Homo sapiens: one gene and its partners. Changing the gene in region 1 together with any one later gene gives a genetic interaction. Each region holds a gene or a part of one and is shown in the gene's direction. Other genes may lie near its edges.

Evidence for each region.
Region 2: changes in FLT3 (region 1) and PCDHA3 together harm fitness less than expected from each alone (positive genetic interaction), as found in Homo sapiens cells (one study listed by BioGRID).
Region 3: changes in FLT3 (region 1) and GAGE12G together harm fitness less than expected from each alone (positive genetic interaction), as found in Homo sapiens cells (one study listed by BioGRID).

Annotation. Positions count from the first base shown.
Region 1 is NC_000013.11:28,052,077-28,055,729, reverse strand, and holds part of FLT3 (receptor-type tyrosine-protein kinase FLT3 precursor), read left to right. Parts: intron 1-2,806; exon of another isoform or gene 2,807-2,898; intron 2,899-3,055; coding exon 3,056-3,185; intron 3,186-3,653. UniProt on the Homo sapiens protein: Tyrosine-protein kinase that acts as a cell-surface receptor for the cytokine FLT3LG and regulates differentiation, proliferation and survival of hematopoietic progenitor cells and of dendritic cells.
Region 2 is NC_000005.10:140,799,485-140,803,237, forward strand, and holds the start of PCDHA3 (protocadherin alpha-3 isoform 1 precursor), read left to right. Parts: upstream 1-1,572; 5' UTR 1,573-1,713; coding exon 1,714-3,753. UniProt on the Homo sapiens protein: Potential calcium-dependent cell-adhesion protein. May be involved in the establishment and maintenance of specific neuronal connections in the brain.
Region 3 is NC_000023.11:49,568,851-49,572,603, forward strand, and holds the start of GAGE12G (G antigen 12G), read left to right. Parts: upstream 1-1,549; 5' UTR 1,550-1,657; intron 1,658-2,696; 5' UTR 2,697-2,704; coding exon 2,705-2,788; intron 2,789-3,253; coding exon 3,254-3,374; intron 3,375-3,753.

The DNA of each region.
Region 1 (3,653 bases):
TCTCTGTTATACTTAGGGTATATTCCTTTCACTTAAGATTTACAATGTAAAAATGTAACAACAGTTATTCAGGTAAATTATAACTTATTTTTAGCATTCTGCAAGGTGGTGGGATCCAAAAAATAGGTGGGAGAGATGTGGCAACAGTCAGTGTGAAAAAGAGGAAAGGGTTTAGTCAACCACAAGCTCAGTATTAACCACCAGCGTGGCATGGTTGCCAAAAAAGTAAATTTGAACCTTGGCAGTGTTCATGAAAATATAACGTCTAAATTAAGGAAATTAATAGAAGCTTATTCATTTCAGTTCTACTTTTTTAAAGATGAATACTGACAAAATGAGCAACCAGGATAGTGGAAAACTTGGAATTCTTTAAATTAGGAGCAGTTGAAGGAATTGGGAATGTGTAGTATATAGAAGGAAATGTTTTGAGGAGACGATAAGATTGATTGCAGTGTAATGCAGAGGAAATTCTTTTGGGATTTGAGTCAGGAAACCTGAGCTAACTAGTTAAAGTACCTTGTATGGTAATTATCTCCCTTGATCTCGGTTTCTGATTTTAAATATTTGAAAGATTTTCATATGGAATCAAAGCTAGACTTTAAAAAAGTTGCTCTAGAGGATATGATAAGAACCAATTGTTAGAAATTACAGGGAGAAAAAGTAAAAATCACCTCAAGATGGGAAAAAATACTTGCAGTTCACAATCAACAAAGGATTAATAGTCATAATATGTAAAGTCAATAAGATAAACAATCTATATAAGTCAATAAGTCAATAAGAAAAACGAACAAAATGAAAACCTAGTAGAGCAATGAACAAAGGACATGAGTAGGCATTTCATTTTTGGAACATGAAACCTAAATGGTCAAGAAACATGTTAAAAGATAAACTTAGGCACTTTAAAGTTGTAAAGAGTATATTTGAGCAGAAAGCAATTCATGAATCAGGCAGTACCAGATGGCAAGCAGGTGGGCTCCAGTGAGGAGATTCAAGGGTAAGACTTCTTTCTATAATGTGTTCCCGGAAGCAAGACAAAGAAAAAATTTGATTGTTTAAAGAAGGACAGTCCCTGGATTGGTCAGTTTGCAGTTCCTCATTGATTAAGCTAAGTTGCATTTTGCTGCTCATATTGAATTGGGTTTGTTTTTTGCTTTTTGTTGTTGTTGTTTTTGTAGAGACGGGGTTTTGGCATGTTACCTAGGCTGGTCTCGAACTCCTGGGCTCAAGCGATCCTCCCGCCTCACCCTCCCTAAGTGCTGGGATTACAGGCGTGAGCCACCTTGCCCGGCCTTTATTCTTTTCCTTTTTTTTTTTTTGAGTTGTGTTGTGATTTGTTTACCTAGGAACTCAAGCTGTTAGAGTTGTCTCAGCCTAATGGACTCCCAATTAATTATTTTAACACATGTTAAATTAATAATGGAGAAATTAAATTAAGACCACAATGAAATACCATTTTATACTTGCTGGATTGCTGAAAATTAAGAAGTCTTGGTAAGTCTATAAAGCAATAGGTGCTCTCATATCCTGCTGTGTAACATAAATTAGTATAACCACTTTGGAAAACAAATGATCATTATGTGTAAGGCTGAATGTGCTCATACCATGTAGACCAGCAGTTCCACTCTTAAGAATGTTATTAAGGAAACTGTTATACACATGCCTCAGTACAAATGTGTAGAATGTTCAGAGCACATGGTTGATCATACAAAAAACTGTGGCCGGGTGTGGTGGCTCATACCTGTAATCCAAGCACTTTGGGAGGCCAAGGCAGGAAGATCACTTGAGCCTGGGAGGTTGAGGCTGTAGTGAGCTGAGATTGCACCACTGCACTCCAGCCTGGGTGACAGAGACCCTGTCTCACACACACACACGGAAGGAAACAACCCAAATGTCTACTGCAAGAAAATGAAAAAATAATGATATATTTACCAATAGAATATTATGTAGCAGTAAAAAAAAAAATGAATAAAGTATAGCTACATGTAAAACCATGGATGAATTTTAAAAACATAAGGTTGGATGAAAAAATGAAGTTGTAGAAGTTACATATTGATTGATAACACTATTTTGAAGCTCAAGAATGAAAAAATCAATATATTGTTTAGTGCCACATATTTATTTGGTATAACTACTTTGAAGAGTCCTCGAATAATCAACAAAATTCAGGATAAAGGATACGTGCAGTTGAGAGGTGGGGAGAAGCATAAAAGTAGATCAAAAGGTATTTATTAATATTCTAGTTATTAGGTGGATAGTGGCTCCGTGGGTATTTGTTGTTGTTATGCTTTGAAATTTACACTCCATATATTCTTTCATATATATATATATATATCAAACAGTACATAGTATTTTCAAACAAAATTTATTGTAAGGAGAGAGGCTGGAATTCAGTATAGGGAAACTTTCTTTAAAAAAAAAAAAGTTTGTCAGAAATTAGAATGACCTGCCCTGGGAGGTCATGAACTCCAGTCTCTAGAAGAGTCAAAGTAGAAGTAGAAAGTTTATGTTAGAAATAGCTGGGAGTGAAGGATGGTGTGTGTGTGTGTGTGTGTGTGATCCAGGGTGAGTGGGAGGCTCAACTAAACCTCTTAAGTTCTGTTGCAATTCCAACTCCACCCTACCATGTTTCTTCTGTCTTTCTAAATCTTAGTATATTTCTGCCTAGTTGCAGATCAAATTATAGGAAGAAAGTTGAGGTCTAAACTATGTGTTAAACAAGGGTTTAAGCCATATGTTATTGCTAATTTCCTTTTTCCTGTGCCTATCAATATTTGTATTTTCACATGGCTTCACTCGACTACTTTAGTTAGCTGTGGATTTGTGAAATACCCAAAGAAATTGGCCAAGAGGAGAAATGTTCAAGTTGACACTGCAGCCACAGCTAAATTTAATATAATGGTTGGTTTGCTTTTGATGCCTTTATTATGAAAAAAGAAAAAAATATGTATACGTAATGGTTGAGAACTTTTCATAATGACATAGAATCCTTTTCTGAGGGGCTGCTAAGAGAATTATTTTTAAAATAGTAAAATGTTAATAACTTATGATGCTTTAGATACCCTGCTTTACACATTAAGAAGACCTTACTTTAGAAAAATGGAAAACCAGGACGCCCTGGTCTGCATATCTGAGAGCGTTCCAGAGCCGATCGTGGAATGGGTGCTTTGCGATTCACAGGGGGAAAGGTATGACACATCCATGGTAGCTGCTATTCTCATAATTTCCTTTTGGCCTTTTTCTAATGTAGTTGACATCAAGCTGTATGTAAAATTTAATTTATGCTCATTTAAACAGGAAACTTTGGCTTCTTAAAGTTAAAAAATGGCCAGTATAGGGCCGGGTGAAGTGGCTCACGCCTGTAATCCCAGCATTTCGGGAGGCCAAGGTGGACAGATCACTTGAGGTCAGGAGTTTGAGACCAGCCTGGCCAACATGGTGAAACCCCATCTCTACTAAAAATACAAAAAATTAACTGGGTGTGGTGGCAGGCACCTAAAATACCAGCTACTCTGGAGGCTGAGGCAGGAGAATCTCTTGAACCTGGGAGGCAAAGGTTGTGGTGAGCCAAGATCACGCCATTGCACTCCAGCCTGGGCAACAAGAGCGAAACTCCGTCTCAAAAAATAAATAAATAAAATTAAAAAAATAAAATA
Region 2 (3,753 bases), on another chromosome or scaffold:
GTCCATGCTTTTCAGAAATAATGCTTAAATGTTTACTTACTTCTTCATAATATAGCACAATATAATCATTTAGAAATTATGTAAGTTTGATATTAACAAATATCATTAACTTACATTTTTATTTATCTTGCTTGAAAAAGTTAATTCAAAATATTAATTTATTTATTCATGAAAACAACAATTGATAATTTATCCTATTCTAAATATGAATGATAAAATCTGAGTAAGTTGCAGTCCTGGCTTCCATTTCATGAATACACAGGAAACAAAAGCTGAAATGAAAACTTTTCCCCTAAATATTTAAATCACATGTTTGATTTCATTTTTAAATGGTCTGGGTATAAGCAAAAATTTGTACATTATTTTATTTCTCTAAATTTGACCTCTTTCCATAAATTTTCTTTGCCCCACTTCCAAATGCGGCGAGAATTCATGCTTCTCATTGAATTCACAGATATCTTTAGAATGTTTTATTGCTTAGTGTTAAATATGTTGAGTAAATACTGGCTTATGTTCCTAGGTTACTTTTCTCCCTTCACTGTTTAGTTAAATAATCAATTCTTTCAAGTAACAACTTTTAAAAAAACTGGAATCTAGAAATTCATCAGGAGTGGAGATCATCAAAAACGTAATTACTTTATATTGTTAACATTTTAGTATATACAGGTAAATTCAAATACATAAAGAGTGTGGAAAAATTAAACCTAATATATTCTTAATTGATGTGATGTGAGTGTAACAAATATACAAATCACATTCCCACAATAGGAAACAAATTTCCTGTTTGAATTTCTCTGTAAAGGACCGACTTCTGAAATCTTTATGTAAGTTACAGTCAAGACAGTTGATGAGGCTATAGTTCTTGAAAAAGGGGCATGGGAGGGAATTACAGACATTCTACAAATTTAAAAAACCATAAATGTACATATTTTAAGAAATTAACAGTTGCTGTAATAACATAAAAGTAGATATATGTATGTTTTAATATATACAGCACACACACACTTTTAAATACTTCAACATCTCAATGTTTTGATGATCATAAATCTGAAAGGATCTGATTTTTCTATAAAATGTAACTTGGGTGGTAAAGAGGTTAATGGTAAGTTGTCTTGAATCAGATTGAAATCCCATCGTACCAAGAGATAATATCGTTTTACTTAACCTCTATGTGTTTATAAAAAGCGAATAATATTAAAACTTATTTCAGAGGATTGTGATAATTTAACGGGATAATTCCATTAAGACAAATAGAAAAGTGGCTGTCACATGGGAAATATTTCCAATAGATGTCCACTGTTAAAACAGGAATCACAATATTTTAGTGTATGTCATGAATTAGCACAATTGATAGTGAATTAGTATAAAAGTTCTAAGGAAATATTTAGATAAAATATAAGGACTTTGAGGAGTGACCGAAGGATATTACAATTGAAACTAGAAATTTTGGGAAAGTTCAAACGACATACAAGGAAAAGAAGATACGTTTACATATTTAATACTTACACGTTTAGCCACATGATGTCGCTGTCCACCACAAGGTCTTTCTCCACAAAAGAAATAACAGCGTGCATTACGTATTCAGATACTGCTTTGCTTCATCCTCTCTAAAATTTAACACCGAGGAGTTTAAGAAATGAAGATAAGGAACTCGAATTATTTTTAAACTTTGGATCAATGTAAAGGCAATCTAATATTTGGAAAATACTTGCAATGTTGTTCTCCTGGCGAGAAGATCCTGGAGCCCAGTGCCTGCTGCTTTCTCTTCTGCTCCTCGCAGCCTCGGAGGTGGGGAGCGGCCAGCTCCACTACTCCGTCTCTGAGGAGGCCAAGCATGGCACCTTCGTGGGCCGCATCGCGCAGGACCTGGGGCTGGAGCTGGCGGAGCTGGTGCCGCGCCTGTTCCGGGTGGCGTCCAAAAGACACGGGGACCTTCTGGAGGTAAATCTGCAGAATGGCATTTTGTTTGTGAATTCTCGGATAGACCGCGAGGAACTGTGCGGGCGGAGCGCGGAGTGCAGCATCCACCTGGAGGTGATCGTGGACAGGCCGCTGCAGGTTTTCCATGTGGAGGTGGAAGTGAAGGACATTAATGACAACGCGCCAGTTTTTCCAATGGCTGTAAAGAATCTGTTTATTTCCGAATCCCGACAGCCTGGCTCTCGGTTTTCGCTAGAGGGCGCATCAGATGCAGATATCGGAACAAATTCGTTGTTGACTTACAGTCTTGATTCCACTGAATATTTTACCTTGGACGTTAAAAGAAATGATGAGGAAATTAAATCCCTTGGACTCGTGTTGAAAAAAAATTTAAATCGAGAGGACACTCCTAAGCATTATTTACTAATAACAGCAATTGATGGTGGGAAACCAGAGCTCACTGGCACGACTCAACTAAAGATCACTGTTTTAGATGTAAACGACAACGCCCCAGCGTTTGAGAGGACGATCTATAAAGTCAGATTACTCGAAAATGCACCAAATGGTACCCTAGTGGTGACCGTTAACGCCACCGATTTGGATGAAGGAGTAAATAAGGATATCGCGTATTCTTTCAATACGGACATGTCAGCAGATATTCTGTCAAAATTCCATTTAGATCCAGTCAATGGACAAATCAGTGTAAAGGGTAACATAGATTTCGAGGAAAGTAAGTCATATGAAATCCAGGTAGAAGCCACGGATAAAGGAAATCCCCCAATGTCAGATCACTGCACAGTTCTACTCGAAATTGTGGACATCAATGATAATGTACCTGAGTTAGTTATTCAATCACTATCTTTACCTGTATTAGAAGACTCTCCACTTAGCACAGTCATCGCTCTGATCAGCGTGTCCGACCGCGACTCAGGAGTCAATGGACAGGTCACCTGCTCGCTGACGCCCCACGTCCCCTTCAAGCTGGTGTCCACCTTCAAGAATTACTACTCATTGGTGCTGGACAGCCCTCTGGACCGCGAGAGCGTGTCGGCCTATGAGCTGGTGGTGACTGCTCGGGACGGGGGCTCGCCTTCACTGTGGGCCACGGCCAGCGTGTCCGTGGAGGTGGCCGACGTGAACGACAATGCGCCGGCATTCTCGCAGTCCGAGTACACGGTGTTCGTGAAGGAGAACAACCCGCCGGGCTGCCACATCTTCACGGTGTCTGCGCGGGACGCGGACGCGCAGGAGAACGCCCTGGTGTCCTACTCGCTGGTGGAACGGCGGGTGGGGGAGCGCGCGCTGTCGAGCTACGTGTCGGTACACGCGGAGAGCGGCAAGGTGTACGCGCTGCAGCCGCTGGACCACGAGGAGCTAGAGCTGCTGCAGTTCCAGGTGAGTGCGCGCGATGCGGGCGTGCCGCCTCTGGGCAGCAACGTGACGCTGCAGGTGTTCGTGCTGGACGAGAACGACAACGCGCCGGCACTGCTGATGCCTCGGGTGGGTGGCATCGGTGGCGCAGTGAGCGAGCTGGTGCCGCGGTCAGTGGGTGCGGGCCACGTGGTAGCGAAGGTGCGCGCAGTGGATGCAGACTCAGGCTACAACGCGTGGCTTTCGTATGAGCTGCAGCCTGGGACCGGCGGTGCGCGCATCCCGTTTCGCGTGGGGCTGTACACGGGAGAGATCAGCACGACCCGTGCCCTGGACGAGGTGGACGCCCCGCGCCATCGCCTACTGGTGCTGGTGAAGGACCACGGTGAACCCTCATTGACCGCCACGGCCACTGTGCTGGTGTCGCTGGTGGAGAGTGGCCAGGCACCCAAGGCCTCGTCC
Region 3 (3,753 bases), on another chromosome or scaffold:
TTTTGAGTGCAAGTGATGCACCCACCTCACCTCCCACAGTGCTGGGATTACTGGCGTGGGCCACCGTGGCGGGCCCGTCATTGCCATTGTAAAGAGTTTTATTTCCTTTTCTGATTTTATGGCATTGCGCAGACCCACCCGTTACAATGGTGACAGTGGACATCCTTGTCTTATCCCTGATGAGAAACCGAAAAATTTCAACATTTCACCATCCTATTCACTCTCCTTTTTTTGTAGACGGACTTTATCAGAGTGAGTCATTGCATTCTGTTCCAAATTTGCTGAGAGTATTCATTTGAATATATGTTGATTTTCATCAAACAGTGCATCTATTTCGATTACCACAGCGTTTTTTCCCATTCATGTGTTAATATAGTGAATTCGATTGATAAATTTGTACGTTTTTAGGTTCGATTATTAAAACTTGAGACAGCGTCTCACTCTGTCACCGAGGCTGGAGTGCGGTGGTGTTATCAGAGCTCGCTGCAGCCTTGACCTGCTGGGCTCAAGCGCGCCTCCCACCTCAGCCTCCTGAGGAGCTGTGAGTATAGGTACATGCCACCATGCCCAGCTAATTTTTCGATGGTTTTTTGTTTGTTTTTTGTAGTGATGAGATTTTCTGATGTTGCTTAGGCTGGTCTCGAAGTCCTGAGCTCAGGTGATCTGGCCAGCTCAGCCTCCCAAAATACTAGGATTACAGGCGTGAGCCTTGGCCTGGTCTGGTTTTTCTTATATAGGGGTCTTATCTATATAAAGACTAAAGTTAATCTGTGCCTTTGTGCGGGTGGGCTAAGAGCATGATGACTTTTATCATTCTATTGATTTAAAGAAAACTGTCCTTGACTTACCAGTGTGTAAGTCCATGAAAGCATAATTCTGTTGAAAGCATATATTGTTAATGGGTGTTGGGAACCGTGCACTTTCCGCTGCTGTGGGAGCATGTCCTTGGAGGTACCTTTCATCTGTTTTCTCAACTCCAAACATCTTAGGACCATGGGTTGTGACTGGTAGGACTATGTATCTTGCTGCTTTCAAGACGGAGTATATTTTCACGTGGTGTCACTCTGGCTGTCCTGTTTCCCTAATACTGTCACTTCACCCTCTGCGATTCTGATGCTACAAATGATAGATATCGTTTTAGCATTTTCTTACGGGTCCTAGCGATTCTATTCATTTTTCTTTCAGTCTCTTTCTCTGACTTGTTCACATTGAACAATTTCCTTTTGGGATAGGTTGCTATTTCTGTTTTCGCAGGTGGTTTACCTGTCTTCCCAGCCAGTCACAGTGGTCCTTGTCCCCATGGTGGGTCCGGGGCAAGAGAGGGCCCTGGGTTGGGGGTGGGGTTCAGTTGAAGATGGGGTGAGTTTTGAGGGGAGCACTACTTGAGTCCCAGAGGCATAGGAAACAGCAGAGGGAGGTGGGATTCCCTTATCCTCAATGAGGATGGGCATGGAGGGTTTGGGGCGTGGCGCTGGGAACGGCAGCCCTCCCCAGCCCACAGCCGCGCATGCTCCCTGGGCTCCCGCCTCAGTGCGCATGTTCACTGGGCGTCTTCTGCCCGGCCCCTTCGCCCACGTGAAGAACGCCAGGGAGCTGTGAGGCAGTGCTGTGTGGTTCCTGCCGTCCGGACTCTTTTTCCTCTACTGAGATTCATCTGGTAGGTGTGCAGGCCAGTCATCCCGGGGGCTGAAGTGTGAGTGAGGGTGGAGAGGGCCTCGGGTGGGTCAGGCGGGTCCCGCTTCCTGGTCTGTGGCCTCCGAGGGAGAAGGGCCACGAGGTCGTCCTCCTTCCCTTCACAGGCTGCGAGGCCACCGGCGGCTTCGTGGTCGTGAAGGGGCCTGGACGGGGAGGAAGGTGGGCCGTGGAGGGGAGGCGGTCAGGGGCTCAGGTGAAGACGGGGTGAGTGCTGTTGGGGGGATGGAAGTCCCGAGGTGCCGGGATCCCCGACGACACAGGGCAGATTCCCTGAATGGGGCCCCCGGCGGGGGCGAGGCGGGCGGTGAAGAAGGGGCCTGGCACCTGGGAAGGCTGCGGCCTGGCGAGCGCCCCCTCAGCGGTGTGGAGTGCGGAGCGCCCGAGTGAGAAGCACTGCAAGGTCTCACCTCCGCCATGGAAGGTCCGAAAACAGTGGGAAGGAGTGGGCGAGGCAGTGCGGTCCAACCAAACTTGTTGTGAGTGGGGGTGAATGGCTCTAGGAAGTGGGAGTGTGCCCAAAGCAGCAATCACGAGAATTGTGATTCACTAGGGTTTTCGTGGGGAGTGCACTTGTGAAACTAAACCTCATCAGAAATGACCTCTGTCTGCGGGGCGCAGTGGCGCTCGCCTACGTATTCCCAGTTACTGGGGACACTGAGGTGGGAGGATCCCTTGAGCGGGAGGTCGAGGCTGCAGTGAGCTGTGATCACGCCGCTGCACTCCAGCCTGAGCAACACAGCGAGACCGCGTGTCCAAAAGAAATTTAGAAAAAAATGTCCTCTGCCTTTTGCCACACGCCTTAAGATGATTGCTCTGCCAGCCTGGCCAGCAGAAGTGGCTTTGTAGGCACTCAGACAGCGTACACACGTATGCTTAACTCTGGGACTTATTTTGAGAGTATTTTCAAAAGTAAAACGGCAAGTTAACATTTATCCATGGAAGTGATCGAATATAGCAGCCCTCTGGAGCGCACGTTCCCAATCACGGTTGTCTGTTTTCAGTGTGAAATATGAGTTGGCGAGGAAGATCGACCTATTATTGGCCTAGACCAAGGCGCTATGTACAGCCTCCTGAAATGATTGGGCCTATGCGGGTGAGTGCTTAAACGTTAATTCGATGTTTTCTATTAGTAGAAATTAATTTTTGTGATAGCGTCGTTGCATTAGTGTGGAAATGCTGATAAAGGTCTTTCCTGCTCATAAAAAATGAGGATGGCATCTCATGAAGGAAACATTGATTCTGGAGGATTTTTTTTTTCCTCTCGTGTTCTTCAGCTTTTGCCCATGACTTCTTTCTCCGGCTTTGTTTGTTAATGACAGATTGTACACATGTATTCCAACACAGAGTATAATAGCCCCCAAAGTCCTCGTGCGTCACTTTTCTCACAGTAACCTCCCTGTGGGTGGAGTAACCTTATTGGGCATAGAGCATAGAGTTGGAGAAATGTCTTTAGGCTTAGTTAGGACCAGAAATAGCTATGTATTCTGTGTATATATGTAAAATTTTGTATCAATAACGAAACTTATTTTCTATTTGCACACCCACACGTATTCCCCAGCCCGAGCAGTTCAGTGATGAAGTGGAACCAGCAACACCTGAAGAAGGGGAACCAGCAACTCAACGTCAGGATCCTGCAGCTGCTCAGGAGGGAGAGGATGAGGGAGCATCTGCAGGTCAAGGTGAGGGAAAGGGAAGAAGAACGTCTGCTGGTGTGTGCGTGTGTGTGTGTTCGTGTGTGTGTGTGCACGTGTGTGTGTGTTAGGCATTGTCACATAGGAGGAAGAGGAGGAAAGAAAACAATGGAAAGAATGCCTGAAATTGACTGGAAAAGCGAGGAGGCTATGTAGTTTGCAGCTTAGCTTAGGCAAATCCCTCACTATGATAAAAGTTCTCGACTTTATGAATGAGAGAATGGAGGTGCCAGGATTGTGTGTTATCCAAGAACCCTTGACTGGTGAATACAACATTTGTACTGTGTTCTAAGGTTTGTGTCTTCCTATCATGTATGTTGCTGGAAAGAAGGAAGTGATTTTGCTGAAAATGCTTAAAACTCAAAAG